Homo sapiens: one gene and its partner. The protein of the gene in region 2 purifies or fractionates together with the protein of the main gene of each other region. This does not show direct contact. Each region holds a gene or a part of one and is shown on either strand. Other genes may lie near its edges.

Evidence for each region. The genes of interacting proteins can lie anywhere in the genome.
Region 1: the proteins of TEX30 (region 2) and SHTN1 purify together in Homo sapiens (affinity purification with mass spectrometry; one large-scale study listed by BioGRID and IntAct). This does not show direct contact.

The regions. Positions count from the first base shown.
Region 1 is NC_000010.11:116,928,537-116,932,187, forward strand, and holds part of SHTN1 (shootin-1), read right to left. Parts: intron 1,467-3,651; coding exon 1,313-1,466; intron 1-1,312. UniProt on the Homo sapiens protein: Involved in the generation of internal asymmetric signals required for neuronal polarization and neurite outgrowth.
Region 2 is NC_000013.11:102,771,647-102,775,397, forward strand, and holds the start of TEX30 (testis-expressed protein 30), read right to left. Parts: upstream 2,141-3,751; 5' UTR 2,036-2,140; exon of another isoform or gene 1-2,035.

The sequences.
Region 1 (3,651 bases), on a different chromosome or scaffold from region 2:
CTTCAAAGAACTGAACTTAAGTTGATATCACAGGTGCTAATACCTATGAGATAATGGGTAAAAGGTGCTGCATACTGTTGGCACTCAGAGGTAGCTCTCCCCATCCACAGCCATTCCACTTTCCCCGACTGAGTGTACCCTCAGGGATCTGTCCATTTGTATTTACCCTCAACACTTAAATAGGCAGTGTGGGCTATGCTCTCCAAAACTGAGAATCCTCTAGTCTTTTTATGTGCATGCACCTATCCCTCCAAGGGGAATCTGAGTTCTCTGAAGACAAAAAGCATGGTTTCTTTTCTTCTGTATTTCTTATTGTTTCCTAGGATAGGGCTGGGTACACACACAGCAGATAATAAGTATTAATAGAAGGCATTCAGATTTGAACCTTATATATTTCCAGTGTCTGCCTCCTCTATTCATAATAAAGATGGCTTTGGCTACAGGCTACTCTGATATTCACTAAAAAGAATGAAATACTTCTTAATTTTGGATCAATTAAAAAATAAATTATAATCAATTTTCATTGTGGATTAGAAAGCACTGAATGCTTTTAGAAGGAAAAAAGGCCTACATGGTTCTTCTGCATAGGTTTCAAAATTCTAGTATAAAATTAACCAAAAATATCTGAAGTGAATATTGAAGCTATTATAAAGGGAATGTACCTGACTTCTTAAATTACCGACCTTCCAACAGAGACTTACACATATGCCCGTATAGTAATCTAACTCGCACATTCCCGTTAAGCCTTCTAGAACTGAATGAATAAATCTTTTGATTTAAGTATCCCCTGGTGTTTCTAAAGATTTTCCATTTAATAGATATATTGTTGCCCAGTTCATTGTTAGGTACAATATAGAAAGTATTATTTCATGTGTATTATTAGACACCAAAGATGAAGGTAGTATGAACACCAAAGATGAAGACAGTATTTTTAAAAAGTTTAATTCTTTCTAAAAATGCACTCTAAGTGAACAAAATAAAGTACATAATGAACATTCATCTCTGAAGCTCTGAAAAATGCTGAAAAGTTGGTCTTCCTAGGCTAACGGTATCTCTGTGTCTAAATTCTGTATATGATGTTCACAAGGGCTCTAAGTCCAAAAAATTAGTCTAAATATTTTTGAATTATTTAATACAGCAGCTATTCTACTGAATTGCAATGGTTAGAAATTAAGGAATTTCAAAACAAATCTTGGTATTTTTCCACAGCATTCAGTAAATGTTCTAGACTAACTATATGCCAGGTTTTGTACTAGGCATGAGTAATTCAAAGATTAATAGTAAGACATAGTAGCCTACTCAATGCTTTTACCAGAGTGCTTTAAATTTCTGGCTTTCTCTTCAGAATTCTGATATTTCAATTCCAATTCCTTTTTATCTTCCTCTAGAAGCTCCAGTTGCTGTTTGAGGTTGTGTATTTCTTTGTGGAGTGTTTCATTTTCTAGTTGCTCTTCTAATTCTTTGACCTATAAGTTATTTAAAAAAAAAAGACTTTTATGGCTGACAGTTTTTCCTTTGTCAAAGAAAAGAAAGGGAAAAAATAAATATTTCCCTTTGACTGTACTTCATAGCAAACAGATTCCAATCCATCTTAACAACCATGCAAATGCTAGATACAATTAACACACAATCATAAATCAGCTAAAGAGCTGATTTAAAATAAATTTACTGGGGAGTTACGTACCAGACACTTTAATTTTTTTTAAGTTTTATTTTAGGTTCGGGGTACATGTGCATGGTTGTTATATAGGTAAATTGTGTGTCACAGGGGCTTGGTGTACAGGTTGTTTCATCACCAAGGTAAAAAGAATAGTACCTGATAGATACTTTTTCGATCCTCTCTCTCCTCCCACCCTCCATCATCAAGTAAGCCCCAGTGTCTGTTGTTCCCTTCTTTGTGTCCGTGTGTAATCAATGCTTAGCTCCCACTTAGAAGTGAGAACATTTGGTTTTCTATTCCCATGTTAGTTCACTTAGGATTATGGCCTCCAGTTCCATTCATGTTGCTACAAAGGACATTATCTCATTCCTTTTTATGGCTACACCGTATTCCATGGTGTAATATGTACCAGATTTTCTTTATCCAGTCTACCACGGATGGGCATTGAGGTTGACTCCATGACTTTGCTGTTGCATATAGTGCTGCGATGAATATGTGTGCACGTGTCTTTATGGTAGAATGATTTATATTCCTTTGGGCATATATCCAATAATGGGACTGTTGGGTTGAATGGTATTTCTGTGTTAAGTTCTTTGAGAAATCGCCACACTGCCTTCCATAATGGCTGAACTAACTTACATTCCCACCAGCAGTGTTTAAGCGTCCCATTTCTCTGAAACCTTGCCAACATCTGCTATTTTTTGACTTTTTAGTAACAGCTATTCTGACTGACATGAGATGGTATCTCATTGTGGTTTTGATTTTCATTTCTCTAATGATTAGTGATGTTAAGCATTTTTTATATGCTTGTTAGTCACACAGACACTTTAATTTTTAAACATGGGTCACTTTTGTACCCATTTTCAAAAGAAAAATTCAGGTAATATTTTAAAAGACTCCTGGGGGACACAAATTTAGTAATAAGTATCAAAAGTCTTCAAAAAAAAAAAAAAAGGAAAGGCTTTCGATTCAGTAAAACCATTTTTAGAAATTATTTTTTAAAATACTCTGAAATATATTCACTGAAGTGGTTTTTTGTTTTGTTTCGTTTTTGTTTTTGTTTTTGTTCTGAGATAGAGTCTCACTCTTTCGGCCAGGCTGGAGTGCAGTGGCGCGATCTGGGCTCACTGCAAACTTCGCCTCCTGGGTTCAAACAATTCTTGTGCTTCAGCCTCCTGAGTAGCTGGGGCTACAGGCACATGTCACCACACCCGGCTAATTTTTGTATTTTTAGTAGAGACAGGGTTTCACCACATTGGCCAGGCTGGTTTCGAACTCCTGGCCTTAAGTGATCCACCTGCTTTGGCCTCCCAAGGTGCTGAGATTACAGGCGTGAGCCACCACACCTGGCCTGAAGTATTCTTTACAACAGCAAAAAGTTGCAAATAACCTAAATGTCCACCAATATTTTTAGTTTAATAAATTATAGCATGTTTATTCAATGAAATACTATGCAACTTTTAAATCACATAGCTTACTATATACTGACATGAGAAGATATATTACCAATGGAAAAAAAATCAAGGCATAAAATAGTATGCATAGTATGATTCAATTTAAACAAACTATATTTATAAAGGTATATATTTACAGAAAGTTCAGCTATGCACCAAAATATGGGATACTTGGTTAATCTTCTTTAACTTTTGCTGTATTTTAAAAATGTATTATAAGGAGCATATGCTATTTTTATAATTGCAAAAACCATATGCTGTGCTTAAAAGACTGCTGCATCTGCAAGGGAACTTACAGACAGCTAAGAAACATTTTAAGCGACATACAGATGGTCCCCAATTTAGGATGGTTTGAGATAGTTTTTCGACTTTACAATGGTGTGAAAGCGACATGCATTCAATACAAACCATACTTCAAATTCTGGATTTTGATCTTTTCCCAGGCTCGCAATATGTAATAAGATACTCTCTCAACAATCCTCTGCAGCGGCAGCCAGCCACAGCTCCCAATCAGTCACATGATCATGCGAGTAAATA
Region 2 (3,751 bases):
TCAGTGTCCCTATCTTCATACATGCAGCCCCACAATTATGCCTGGGTTTCTCAGTTCAAAGATCCTCTGTTTTACTTTCTCAAGAGAATAAGCCTCCATCCAGTCTTCTAACAAGGGGAAAGGCAGTCACCCAACAGGTGAAATGGGGAAGGGGATCTGGATATCCAATTGCTTCTCAGATTTCACCTAAATCATCTTTCTTTAAGCTCCTTACACCCACCTTCTGCACCACACCACCTTCATTCCCAGTACCACCGCTGTCCAGTGCTGCCAGTTTCCGTGCAGTTTGAAGATTCTGTGGTTAATACAGGGTTTGCTAAGCCATACATGTTTTGGAGCCCGCTATTTGATTGCCAGCGTTTCCTTTCCTATTCTCCCATTGCTGGAGGTTCATGTTTGTTTTTAAATAGCCTTAATGTAAGTTTAGTGAAACTTCATGAAGGAGTAAATTTAGATGCATGTAAACAACCACTATCTTAATTTAGAATGCTTCCCTATTTTTTTTTTTTTTGAGACAGGTTCTCGCTCCGGCGGACAGGCCGGAAAATTGAGTGGCGCAATCATAAGCTCACTGAATCCTCGAACTCCTGAGCTCAAGCGATCCTCTCGCCTCAGCCTCTTGAGTAGGTGGGACTACAGACGCTCACCACCACGCCCGCTTATTATTTTTAAATGTTTTTGTAGAGACGAGGGTCTCCCTATGTTTCGCAGGCTGGTCTTGAACTCCCGGGCTCAAGCGATACCCCCTGCCTTGGCCTCCCAAACCGTTGGGATCCCAAGGCGTTTGCCACCTCTCCCGGTCTGCTTTACTTCTTTTCAGACTTCACGATGCACAGTGTGTTCTTCACGGCAGCTGCACACATGCTGGTTTTCTTCAGAAACACGGAAAATGCCCCATAATGCAATCCCCAAGCAACCTGCTCTAGGTCATCTGGGTTTGTTTTTTTGAGACAGAGTCTTGCTCTGTCCCCCAGGCAGGAGTGCAGCGGCGCGATCTCGGCTCACTGCAGCCTCTGCCTCCCGGGTTCAAGAGATTCTCCAGCCTCAGCCTCCCGAGTAGCTGAGATTACAGGCGTCCGCCACCGCGCCCAGCTAATTTTAGTAGAGACGGGGTTTCACCATGTTGGCCAGGCTGGTTTTGAACTCCTGACCTCAGGTGATCCACCCGCCTCGGCCTCCCATGGTGCTGGGGTCAGGCGTGAGCCACCGTGCCAGGCCACTGTCGTCTGGGTTTTCATCTCTGGCTTCAGGTTCAGAGAGGGCAGGGTTTGAAGCCTGGCCCGGCCTCAGTGCCCTCAATGGCGATGGTGAAGATGACCGGCTAGAGGTGCTGCGCCCACGAAACGCCAGCTCTAGTGGCGTCCGGAGCGCCGGCTCCACCGGCTAGGCGGTCGGCGGAGTTCTAGGACGACAACTACTCACAAGGGCTGGGCGATCACCTCCCACGCCACGGGACGGAGACGCCACAGCCCCTTCAACTTTCAGTTACAAACGTTCGTGCCCTGTTACGTCCACAGCATTAAGCTGGCTGTCGTGGGGCAAACAAAAACGTTGAGTCCGAGTCTTACGGGGGGTCGGGTCAACAACCCCAGCAAACATGGAGAGAAAATTCAAAGCGGGTCTCACGGGCGTGCGGGGCTCGGCGGCGCTCGGGGCACGGGATCCGTTCTCTCCGCAAATGCGCGCTGCCGGGGCTGCGCCGCGGGCTGCCCCGGTCGACCCCTCTCAACTCCGAGGCTACTTCGAGCCAGTCACCCGGGACTGGCTGACGTGGTCCAGGTTGGCCCCGTCCGGCTCTCCCCGCCCGTACCAACCCCACATTCCGCCCTCCTACCCGGCAAAGCGGACGAAGCCCCCACCGGCTGGTGCCCGCGGGCACCGAACTTAGCGGAACGCCTCCCGGCTCGGACCAGACGCCCCTGAGGAGTGACGCCCGCGAGCCTCAAACGTCTCAGGCGGGCCTGCCGGGTGCTCTCCCCGTCTCCCAGGAAGCCGCCCGTCAGCCGGCGGCGCCAACCGCCACCGCCGCACTTACCCGGGAAGGCAAAAGTGGCCGCGGGCACCCAACCGCCGTCACTCCCTTCAGGGAGCTGACTAGCGCGCTCGAAGCGACCGCCTCGCCTGCCCCGCCACAGCGTTCGGCTACGACGCACGCGCGCGCAGGCCACGCCCCCCGGGTGCGCGGGCCGGGCCGCAGAGCACGCCGGGAGCGTGGGTCTCCCAGCCCGCCACATCCCAGGGCTGTACGCGCGGACTAGCGGAGCTAGGGGAAGGTGCCAGGGTGGCCGCCGCCTCAGTAGCACGCGGACGGCTGGAAAGTCAGCCCCCGTTTCCGCCTCACCCAGGATTGCTCCACTCGGGGCCTTTCCGCATCCCAGCCACCACTCCATTCCGAGGCGCGATCAGCTCTGACCAGTCTTCCTCACACCCATAGTCGATTCGTTACTCCCGTTAAGGTCAAACGCTGACAGAAACCAGCCGCTTCGCACACTTCTACATGGGGTCAAGCCCCCTGTTATCTTTGCGGGGATGATTGTAACAATCACTTAAATGGTCGCTTCGTACCATCTTGCCCCCGCCTGGGCCTTGTCGGCGACGCCGCAGCCACGTGGATGCTGTGGAAGCCTGTCCCCTGGATCTTCCAAAGGCTCCGCGCTCATTGCCACAGCCAGCGGCCGGCAGTGGCCTAGGCTGTTGCACGCGATCGGTCCCCCACATCTCCCCTCTCCATCTGGCTCCTTTCCCTGGAAGCCCAGGGCAGCCCACACTTCGCTGTCCTCACCCCCACTCACCAGGCGGGACCCCACGACGACCGGCTTTTGTCCTGGCTGCTCCCTCCCAGCGTGGGCCGCGTCTCCTCGGGGTCGACAGGGCGCGTGGTTTTCACAGCGAGGCCTCCCCTGATCACCTCCCCGCTCTTCCTGTCCTTCCCCGGTCACCTCACGAGCTATGGATGTATCTGTGTCTCCTCACTGCGCTATAAGCTCCCAGGTGAAGAAAGGGTTGCTTTTTGTAAATTTTTGTTTTAACCGTGAACCTCTTGTGTATGAATAATGCTCAGAAAAAAAAAAATTTCTTAAATGAATGAATCTTCCCCAAGCCCAGTGCAGTTGGCACCTGCCCTCTTTTCTGTCACGGTACATACAAGGAAATACATTCCACAAAACCACATAGTCGCTGTCATTTATCACAAGTGTTTCCCCAAATTACAAAGTCTTAATACTTCTTTGTCTCCTAATTTTTTAGCTGTGTTTTTAAAAAACATTTCTTTACATGCCATAAAATTCACTCATTTGAAGTGTACCATTCAATCATTTTCAGTAATTTTAAAACCATTTGCAACCATCACTATAATTTAAGAACATTTCCATTATCCCCCTGAAAAGTATTTGCACAGTTATAGTTGAGGTAGGAGATCAGCAGGACTTTCCAAGCACTGATCACCACCTGCTGAGCAAAACAGGATCTGGTCAGAACAGGATGCCCTAAAAAAACGGCCAAAACTGCCCTAAAGAAACAGGCCCAAGCCAGCTAAAACCAGGATGGTGACCAAAGTGACCTCTAGTGCCCTCACTGCTCATTATACACTAATTATAATACATGAACATGCTACAACACTTCCACCAGCACTCTGACAGTTTACGAATGCCATGGCAATGCCCAGACCTTACCTTATATGGTTTAAAAACGGAAGAATTCTCAGTTCCGGGGAACTCCCCACCCCTTTTCTAGAAAATTCGTGAATAACCCA